2 separate regions of the Homo sapiens genome follow, and region 1 is linked to region 2. A link means that fine-mapping ties the variant in region 2 to the expression of a gene that starts in the linked region. Tissue or cell type: subcutaneous fat. Region 2 holds a variant in brackets; the other region holds the start of a gene. All regions are shown on one strand. Distances are between the middles of the regions.

Region 1 (5,000 bases), 21 kb before region 2:
AGGTGGAGGTTGCAGTGAGCCGAGATCATGCCACTGCACTCTAGCCTGGGCACAGAGTAAGACTCCGTCTCAGAAAAAAAAAGAAGGAAGGAAGGAAGGAAGGAAAGAGAGAGAGAGAGAGAGAAAGAAAAAGGGGATAAGGTTAAATAAACTTTTTCTTAAAATGGTCAAACAGTAAATATTTTAAGTTTGGGGCCCATGTAATCTGTCTCTAATGCTCAACTCTGCCAAAAGCAGCCACAGACAATATTTAAAGAGACAGCAGAAACTATGTACCAATAGAATTTTATAAAACACAGTGACTGGCCCTGCCATAATACGCCAACCCCTGGTCTAATCTAGTGGCTCTCAAGGTATGCCCCACCTCCACCCCAACCAGCAACATCAGCATCATTTGAGAGCTTGTTAGAAATTTTGCTGGGTGTGGTGGCTCACGCCTGTAATCCCAACACTTTGGGAGGCCAAGGTGGGCAGCTCACTTGAGGTCAGGAATTCAAGACCAACCTGGCCAACATGGTGAAACCCCGTCTCTAACTAAACTACAAAAATTAGCCAGGCGTGGTGGCACACACCTGTAGTCCCAGCTACTCAGGTGGCTGAGCCATGAGAATTGCTTGAACCCAAGAGGCAGAGGTTGCAGTGAGCCGAGATTGTGCCATTGCACTCCGGCACTCCGGCCTGGGTGACAGAGCAAGACTGTCTCAAAAAAAAAAAAAGAAAGAAAGAAAGAAAAATAAACATAAATTCTCAGGCCCTGCCTAGACCTACTGAATCAGCAATTCTGGGGTGGAGCCTAGCAAATAGTGTTTTTTGTTTGTTTTGTTTTGTAGAGACCAGGTTTCACTATGTTACCAAGACGGGTCACAAATAGTGTTCTAACAAGCCCTCCTGGTGATGCTGACGCATGCTAAAGTTTGAAAACCACCACTCTAACCGCTGCTCTGACACCCTGTCCTATGATTTGAAGAGGAGAAAAAAATGTTACACCATTCTCACAGCTCTCAGACAAGTTTCTCTTTCCTCCTCTCTTCCTGTTTACAGATAATGCTACAGAGCACCCCACAGAAAACAAGGGAGGCACTCAAAAGCCCTGAGACAAAGTGACCACTTAATCCTCAACACAAGGGCCAAGACTAGAACTTCCCACTTTCAGTCATTTCCAAGACTGGGATGTGACCTCAGAAAAAGGTCCAGATAGAAGGCGGCTCTAACAGTCAGAGAGTATGGATATTTGCTGGGGTAAGAGGTCTTATTGCCAGCAGCCACAAAACCTAACTGTTAAGACTGCAGGCAGGCTTTGGAATCAAATTAAACTGGATTTTTTTTTTTTTTGAGATGGAGTCTCGCTCTGTTGCCCAGGCTGGAGTGCAGCAATGCGATCTCGGCCCACTGCAACCTCTGCCTCCTGGGTGTAAGCGATTCTCACGCCTCAGCCTCCTGAGTAGCGGGGACTACAGGCACGCGCCACCACACCCGGCTCATTTTTGTATTTTTAGTAGAGTTGGGGTTTCGCCATGTTGGCCAAGCTGGTCTCAAATTCTTGACCTCAGGTGTTCCCTCCGCCTCAGCCTCCCAAAGTGCTGGGATTACAAGCGTGAGCCACCGCGCCCAGCCGAAACTGGATTTTAATCTCTCTTCCGCCAATTACTAGCTGTGACCTTGGCCACCCAACTGGTCTGAACTTCAGTTGCTGCGTCTGTAAAGAGGAGATGCGAATGTCTTTCTCACAGGGTGCTTTAGATTTAAATGATTTAAAAGATTTAAATGAGCTAACACATATAAAAATAGTTATCACAGTGCCTGGCCTATATTAAGTGCTCAAATCCATTCACTAAACAAATATCTACCGCACGCTTACTAACATCCAGCACCATGCCACCTGCTGGCTATGCTGAATGAACATGGTTCTGCCCTTGCGGAGTTTAATAGAGGAAACAAGCAACTAAACAAATGCAAAATTACAGATTGCGACGGGGCTAAGGAGTCAAGGGAAGACCTGAGGTGACATTTAGACTGACACATTAAGATGGAGACATAATGCAAAGGTCTGGGCGAGGAGTGGTCCAGGCAAAAGAAACGCTGGAGACAGACAACATCTGGACGTTGTTGCTGTGATTACCAGTCGAGTCACAAGGAACTGGACGGGGTAAGGAGGCCAGCGATCTAGCTGGGGTCAGAGATTATGGGAAGAATCAGTAGTAGAGGAGGGCAGATGAGGACTAGAGAGCGGCCGCAAGACACGCCGTGAGGACCTGGGCCACTCCTTACCCGCCTGGGGCAGGAGACCCCCTCGCAGCATCCCCGCCACGGCCGCAGCCATCTCCACCGGAAGAATGGACGGAAGCCGAGTGGAGACGGAAAGAGCTAAGGATTGTGGGGTAGCGAACCCCGGGGCCGGAAGCAGTGGGCGTACCCGCCGGCTGTAGCCGTAAGACGCATGCGCTAGGCCGGGCCAACGGAGCCCGCCTTTACCTCCCCACTCGGCGTCCAGTCTCTTAGCAACGACTCCGGCTTCCTAGGAACTGCTCCTTTCTCAACCATTCCTGCCCACAACACCCCAGCTTGCTGCCAGCAAAGCCCCTCCACACCCCTCAAACTCCAGACCCTTCACATCAATTTACTGTTTTCTTCGACCTCACCCCAGCAATTTTCTCTGAATCAACCCCCTTTCCTCCTCTCCTAAGTCTCTGAGTTTCTCTCTCCTCCTGCCATCCTGAGTTCTGCCATCCTTAGGGGCCGCCAAGACCTCTCTTTTCGTTCCTCTCCCGCCTCAGACCAGCAGCCTTTTATTTTAGATCATGTCTGGAGGTGAGTAGGGAGGTGGGACGGTGGGTAGAGCAGTTGGAAAACAGCGGGGTAAGGCCTCCAAGAGTGAGGAAGTGTCACAGTTGGACTCATCTTTTCACAGGGAAGTCAGCCCAGGGTCCAGAGGAAGGGGGCGTCTGCATCACTGAAGCCCTTATCACTAAGCGGAACTTGACTTTCCCTGAAGATGGGGAACTGTCAGAGAAGATGTGAGTGCATGGGGGAGAAAAGGGGTGCTAGAAGGCTGAAACACTCAGGATGACCAGGTCCCTGACGTGTACTGATTTGTCAACTGATCTTTGTTTCTCTCCTTACTCCACACATTCAATCAGTGGTAATGCCCAGCTGATTTTCCCTTCTTCAAAATAATTCCATTTCTTTTTCACCATCCTCACTCAACTGTCTTAGATAAGGCCGTGTTCACCTCTCTCCTACACACCCACCACTTTGGGAGGCTGAGGCAGGAGGATCACTTGAGCCCAGGAGTTTGAGACCAGCCTGGGCAATAGAGACAGAATCCTATCTCTAAAAAATAAAAATAAACTAGCTGAGCATGGTGGTGCACACCTGTAGTCCTAGGTGGCTGAGACAGGAGGATCACTTGAACCCAGGTACCTGTGGCTGCAGTAAGCTATGATCATGCCATTGCATGCCAGCCTGGGCAACAGGGTGAGACCCTATTTCTAAAACAAACAAAAAGTAAAGTATTTTTAATTACTTTTTTAGAGATGGGGTCTTGCTCTGTTGGCCAGACTGGTCTTGAACTCCTCAAACAATCCTCCCACTTCAGCCTCCTGAGTAGCCAAAGTGATCCTTTTAAATAACAAATCTAATCAGGCATTCACTGATAGAAACTTCCTCCCAAATAAATCCCAATGCCTAAGCATGAGTTGACTTCTGCTTTTCAGCCTTATTTCTGGCCACTCTCCACAAGTGTACAATTTCCCACACTGTGTACTCACACCTTAGTACCTTACTACTCAGAGTATGTGTGGATGGGAGGGGGTGCAGGGGTAGGACAGCAGCATTGGCATCACAGGGGGCTTGTTAGAAGTGGAGCATCTCAGCCCCTCCACCCGATCTACTGAATTAGAATCTGCATGGGCATATTGGAGTTTCGGAAGGGCTGTATTAGCATGTACTATTCCTTCTGCTTGAAATGCCTTCTCCCCATATCCCCCCACCTTCATGGCTAATGCCTACTCATCTGTCACCTCCTCTAGGAAGCATTCCCTGATTCCTCCTACTGTGAATTTAGTGCACAGCCTATGTACTCCCTTTGTCCCCTGTACTTGCTTCTGTTATCCACTTGTCAGGGATGTTTGGCCTTATTCTTTCTTTCTTTCTTTCTTCTTCCTCTTCCTCCTTCTTTCCCTTCTTCCTCCTCCTTCTTCCTTTCCCCTGTACTTGCCTCTGTTATCCACTTGTCATAGATGTTTGGCCTTCTTCCTATTTTTTTTTTTTTTTTTTGAGACGGAGTCTCACTCTGTTGCGCAGGCTGGAGTGCAATGGTGTGATCTCGGCTCACTGCAACGTCTGCCTCCTGAGTTGAAGCGATTCTCCAGCCTCAGCCTCCCGAGTAGCTGGGACTACAGGTGTGCGCCACCACACCCGGCTAATTTTTTTTGTATTTTTAGTAGAGATGGGGTTTCACCATGTTAGCCAGGCTGGTCTTGAACTCCTGACCTCAGGCAATCCACCCACCTCGACCTCCCAAAGTGCTGGGATTACAGTGAGCCACCTCGCCCAGCCTCTTTTTTTTTTTTTTTTATGACATAGGGTCTTGCTCTGTCACCCAGGCTGAAGTGCAGTGGCATAATCATGGCACACTGCAGCCTCGACCTCCTGGGCTCGAGCGATCCTCCTGCCTCGGCCTCCCAAAGTGCTGGGAGTACAGGGTAAGCCACCATGGTCAGCCTGCCCTGCTTCTTTATTAGTGGTGGGCAGAGACTCTGTCATTTGTCTCTAGTAGGCACTCAGCAATGTTGTGGAATGAATGAATGGGTGGATGGAACAAGTGCTTTTTTCTCCATGAACGACTCAAAAGGAAGGTGAGGAAGGATCTTTCTGCAGTGTCTCATCTCTGTCCCACCCCTGCCTCCACCATCCAAGCTGGCCAGAGGAAGGTTTCTCTTGCCTCTGAATCTCTCCAGAAACCATAAGCTGCCATCCCCCAATTTCCCAGAGGGCCCTTA
Region 2 (5,446 bases):
TGAATGACTTGGCACAGTGACTTGGACAAGGATGTTCATTTATTCATTCAATAAACCAGGTCTCCTAACTCCTGGACTCTCAGTCTGTTACTTTCTGTAAACCAATCTTTCTGTAGACCCTTAGAACGCTAAAGACCCCCAACGCTTTCTCAACCACATATCTGTGGCTTGAAGTTCACTCTTTTCTCACCACCTCTCCCTAAGGCCTGGAAGCCCTGGTGCCTCAGCTGGGCAGGTTTGTGTGCCTGGGTCTTCTCTACTGGTGGGGGAGGAGACCAGTGACTTAGGGCAGGATTGTTTCCTTCCTACAGCAGGGCTTAGCTGACCCTACCATCTCCTGCCTCTGGGACCAGGGAGGTGGCACTGATAGCCTGGGAGAGGGAGGGAGAGGAGGACGGGGGCACCTACTCAGGCTCCGGCTGCCTCACCACAAGAGGAAAACAGGGTGAAGTTGCAGGAAAGGAGCCCCAGGCCGGGGTGGGGCAGCACAGAAGGGGCTGAGCGGGAGCTGTGAAGCCAGGGACCCTAACAGCTTTTGGTGCCTGGGAACTGCCCCAGGGGCTGGAGGATGGGAAGGCTAGGATAATCTGGGCTCCAGAGTGGCTTCTCCTGGCAGAGAGCTGGAGAGCCCAGGCCTGGGATGCAATGGCCTGCTACCAAGATTTCAGAAACCCAAAGCGGGGTGATTCTCAGGTTCTAAGACCAGTCCCACTGGGTGGAAAACTGCCCTGGAGCTGGCTCAGTCTAGCAGAAGATGCAAGACTAAGACCCAGGAGAATAGAGGAGGGGGCAGGTCTTGGGGGTGATATGGAGCCACCCTTAGGTGGCAACCCTTAGGTTGCCTCTATGGTCCTTGACCCACCTGCCCCAGAGCTGAGAGGAAAGAAGGGAACAGGATTGAGTGCCAAGTATGTGTCCGGTTCACTTCCAGGCCTAGAAAGAGTTCAGGAAAGGAGAGAGCACAGCGTACATCGCAGGCTTCTCGCTCCCCGAAGTGGGAAGGCAAGTCGGTGCACCCTTATGCCCCATTCGGCTCTGCCTCTCTGGATCACCGGCTAGTACTCCCAGTTCTCAATGTCCCGGTCCTCTGGTTGTCCCAGTCGCTCCAGTTGCCCCGGTTTCCAGCCTCCTCGGTCCCTCCAGTCTCTCCCGTCCGCCCAGTTTTCCCTCCATCGGGGTTCTAACCTCTCAGATCCTTTAGGACCACCCCGCTCCCAAGGCCATAGGAGGCTGGGGCGCGTTCGGAGTGCGTTTTTTCGAGACAATCTCCGTAGCGCTCACCCCTGGCCACCCCGACCCGCGCTCCTACCTCGAGGCTGCGGCGGGCTCCGGGCACGGCTGGCTGGTGCGCTACTGACGGTCGCTCATAGGCCCTGTGCGCCGGCGAGCTCTCCAGCGGTAAGGGGCAGGAGCCCAGGGCGAGCCAGACCCGGCGGCTGGCGGCAGGCGGCAGGCGGCGGAGGTGAGCGCTGGCGAGAGGGCGGAGGACGGAGGGCGGGCAGGAGCCAGCGAGCGAACAAGGCCAGCTCCGCCCGTGACTCACCCGCGCTCTCTGCCTTCATCCTCTCCCCAGCGCTGCTTTTTCCCCCGGACTCGCGGCCCCGCCCACCTCACCTGCGGCCGCCTTTAACCCTTGAGGGCTCGGCTGGACCGGAGCCCAGCCAGGGCCGCGAGGAGGGGGTGGGCGGGAGTGGGGGAGGAAAGATAACTAGGGCGTGCGCCGCCCGCTCCCTCGCTCCTCCCTGGTCCCCTCCACTCCCAGGGAGAGGGGCCCGGGTGGGGTGATTCCCAGGTTCTAAGACCCGCCCCGCCGGGTGGAAAACTGCCCTGGAGCTAGCTCGGTCTAGCAGAGGACGCAGGACTAAGACCCAGGGGGAATGGATAAGGGGGCAGGTCCTGGGGGTGAGACAGAGCCACCCTTAGGCAGCAACCCTTAGGTTGCCTCGATGGCCCTTGACCCTCTCTGAACGGACAGCCCTGCCCCGGAACTGGGAGGAAAGAAGGAAACAAGATTGAGCGCCAAGTATGTTTCCAGTTCGCCTCTAGGCCTAGGCCGTGTGAAATTTGTCTTGGCTGCCCTCCTTCGCCATTCCCCCGACCCCCGACCCCCGTCCCCTGCCCTGCCTCACCCCCCGCACCCCGCGCCGCTTCTCTCCACCACCACCCTTCCCCGTCCTTTTTTCCCTCTCCCTTCCGGGGTATCCCTCTCTGACCTTTCTGGGTGACCACCTCCTCTCCTCCCCTCTCCCAGCCTCTGCCCACCACCGGTCTCTGCTTCCCCCCTACTCTGGTCCCAGGTCCCAGCAGCTGTCACTCTGCCCCTCCCCTTAGGTAGCAACCCCAGTGCCTAAGAAATCCACCTCTCAAATTCGCCTCTCCTCGCCCTCCTGTCCTTCGGGAAATGCTCAGCCTACGCACACCCTCGCCCCCGAGCACCCGGTTCTGAAGAATGGGCAGGCGCCTGAATGGCCCTGGGAAGGGACACTTCTGGAAGGAATTGAGCTATCCCTTGCCACCATTCCTTTCTAATTCTCACCAGAATAACTAAACCCAAGGTTCTTAACTTTGGGGAGGGGTCTTGGATTCCTTTGAGAAAAATTCACATGCCCAGTGCAATATTCTGGTAAAATTTCAGCGCGCTCGCGGAGCTCACAAAAACTTCCCTCAAGATCTGGATGGGTCGACATTTCCGAGACCCGCAAAGCACCGGTGGGTAGGGAAGTTCCGTCCTCCACCCACGCATTCTTCTGCCTGGCCGCTGAGGTGGCCCCATGCTTCACTCCCATGCCGCAGTGTTGATCTCTCCATGTGACCCCTTTTTTCACAGGGGAATGCAGATTAATTTCCCTATTTCTTTCATTTTTCAGATTCGTCTCCTCTGTGCGCTTTGCCGTCGGCTTTTTAAAATTTCGTTTTCCTCTTTACAGTCGATTTCATACTTGAATTTAGGCTGATTTAATCTCGCCTCTACAGCCCCTACTCCCCCCCGCCATTGGTTTACCTGTCCTGCATGCCCGTTTGGGACACACTCAAACTGTAACTCAAAAATAGCTAAACCGAGTGCATAAGCGGGGTGAAAATCAATCCATGTGTGTATGCGTATGTGCATGGTACCCCTCAGACACGCACACGTTCT[T/A]ATCCAGAATCGACGTCGGATTCATCTGTGCATCTCCCTCTTTTCTAAGGCTCATTTCCCTCATCCGGACAACCTGGGTACACATTGGTAGGGTCTCCTGGGGGCTTAAAGGAATTGATATGCCTAAAAATGCTTAGCCCAAGGGGCCCCTGGTAAGCGCCGGGTAAATGGAAGATATCCTTGTTATAATTATTAAATAAGTCAGTTCCAGGTAAATATTGGTTGGATTAAGGTGTATGCACAAAGACCTGTGGACTAGAAGTTGACGGATTTAAATTCTAGCCCCAGCCCTGCACTTGCTAAACTGACCCTGGCAGGTCAGGTGCCTCTAAGCCTCAGTTTCTTCCTTGGTGAAATGCTGTAAAAGCAGCCACCAAGCTAGAGAAGTGACAGGTATTTGGAAGCCGGAGATGCCGCCTGACATCGGGGGATTGAGATTTCTGATCAGTCGGGGTTTGCTTTTTGCCTTCTTGTTACTTGGGGCTCTGGATGTGGATTCACAGGAACTGCTCTGGATCTTTGTGGCCATGGCTAATTTGACAATCAATCCTCTTCATCAACGCAGCTTTGTCTCCATCCATTCAGCCTACAAATCCTGGCCAGTTGGGTTTGTATCCTAGTTCACAGCTACCTCTGGAATGGAGTAGACACTCATCAGGTCCAAAACAGAGCCCCCAGTGGGGGACTCTGGTTCCTGATTTGACCTCTGGGCATTCCTGCCTCCTCCTCCAAGCTGCCTGCTGGTGCTGCATCTACTGTTCCTAAGGTGCTAAAGCCTGTGCAGGGGTCTGACTCTGGGTAGGGGACCAAGTTCCCCTCCCATTTATAGGCATCAGATTGCCTTCTCTTCCTGGCCCCTTCTGCCTTTTCCCTGGAAAGCAACAGGGATTCAGCCCGAGGATGGTAGACACTCCCTGCTACTTTCACTCTAGGCCCCCTTTAGCCCTGCCCCGATCCAACCAGACCTGTAGCCATCTGGAATTCCACCAGCAAAGACCCTCCATCTGCCTGCAGCTCATCAGCAGGAAATTCAACAACAATGCAGTTGTCTCTGGAAACTCCCAGCCATTCTGATTTCCTGCTCTGCCTAGGTTTCTGCTGCTCACTCAGGGTACTGGCACTATCTTTCCTCCAGTCCCCCTCTACTTGCAGTCCTCTGCTTCCAGCCCTTTTGGTTTCCCACTTGCTAAATGTTTTCCCACCGAATGACGGCGCATGGTCTGATGTTAACTTAATGAGCAAGGTCACCACAGCCCATTGCCCATATACTTATTGCTACTCAAAATTGAACAACACAGCCCATCACATCTCCTGTATAAACTGAGATCTGTCTTGGACTTGGGCCATTTCTGCTGCTCTTCCTCATTCTCTCAAATAAATAGTCAGATTTCCCCTGCAAGTGTCCAACCCCCATTCCTGCCACCCCTCTTCTTCTCAAGCTTCATCTATAGTCAGTGATCCACTTTGTACCTGGAGAAATCTCATTAGTCTGCGTGTTTATCACAAACGGCATTTATTTACTGAGCACCTACTATGTTCCAGATGCTTTACACAAATATCTCTAATTCTCATGGGCATGCAGCAAAGTAATTATTATTATTCCCGTTGTACAGATGAGGAAGCCAAAGATCAAAGAAGTTAAATGATCTACCCAAGATTACAGAGTTGTTAAAAGACAGAAGAAGAAACTGAGTTCAGATCTCTCAGGTTCCAAAGCCTGTATTCTGCCTACTAGTCCATCTGGCCTCAATATGGCAGAATTGATGACCCTGGAAGTCTGGCTCCCCTAGAGCCTGAAGGTGGAGGAAACAGCATTCTTAAATGAATCCCTAGATCAAAGCCATCTCCTATCTTGAGTCTAATGGACAAACTGATCCCATCTTGAATTGCTGAGACAAGTCAGACTCTACACTTGTGATCCCTTCCAAACTTCAACTGTCCTGTAGAGATTGCACTATGAGAATATCAAAGCTGGTCTAGCCCCAAATTGTCTCGTCCAAGCCCTCGTTTTACTGGTAGGGAAACCAAACCCCAAAACAGGGACGTTAGTAGCAAGTTAGAAGCAGAGCTGGGACCAGACCAGAGTCTGGTCCTGTTTTCCTCTTCTCACTCACTCCTCTCCTCCATTTCCCACTCCCACCTTCGGGCTGCACTTCCAAGCCTGCAAGCTGATGACCCTGGATGCCAACATATTCCTTATTTCCCCTCCTCTCCCCACCATACTCTCCTGATTCTTAGAAAACCAGATAGAGCCTAAAGCTGGGGTCAAATAGTTTTCTTTCATTCATCCTTTATTTCATTCAACAAACA

Direction of the effects. Positions count from the first base shown, and alleles are read on the strand shown. Sizes are in standard deviations (SD) of each study's normalised expression.
In carriers of allele T in region 2, the expression in subcutaneous fat of the gene that starts at base 2,350 in region 1 tends to be higher than with A alone (small effect, 0.21 SD a copy in GTEx).

The links. PIP is the estimated chance that this variant, and not a neighbour inherited with it, causes the effect.
Region 1: MRPL10 starts here. The variant in region 2 is fine-mapped to the expression of MRPL10 in subcutaneous fat (GTEx, PIP 0.92).

What each region holds. Positions count from the first base shown.
Region 1 is chr17:47,829,192-47,834,191 of GRCh38, forward strand. It overlaps MRPL10 (mitochondrial ribosomal protein L10), which reads right to left and starts at 2,350. Exons shown (of 5, transcript NM_145255.4): 1 at 2,269-2,350. The coding sequence starts at 2,320. LRRC46 (leucine rich repeat containing 46) reads left to right here and starts at 2,479. Exons shown (of 8, transcript NM_033413.4): 1 at 2,479-2,808; 2 at 2,909-3,014. The coding sequence starts at 2,799. RefSeq lists enhancers at 932-1,763, 1,764-2,593 and silencers at 2,056-2,115, 2,356-2,515.
Region 2 is chr17:47,849,610-47,855,055 of GRCh38, forward strand. SP6 (Sp6 transcription factor) reads right to left here and starts at 1,554. Exons shown (of 2, transcript NM_001258248.2): 1 at 1,310-1,554. RefSeq lists a silencer at 4,183-4,374. The variant T/A (reference allele first, on the strand shown) is at 3,137.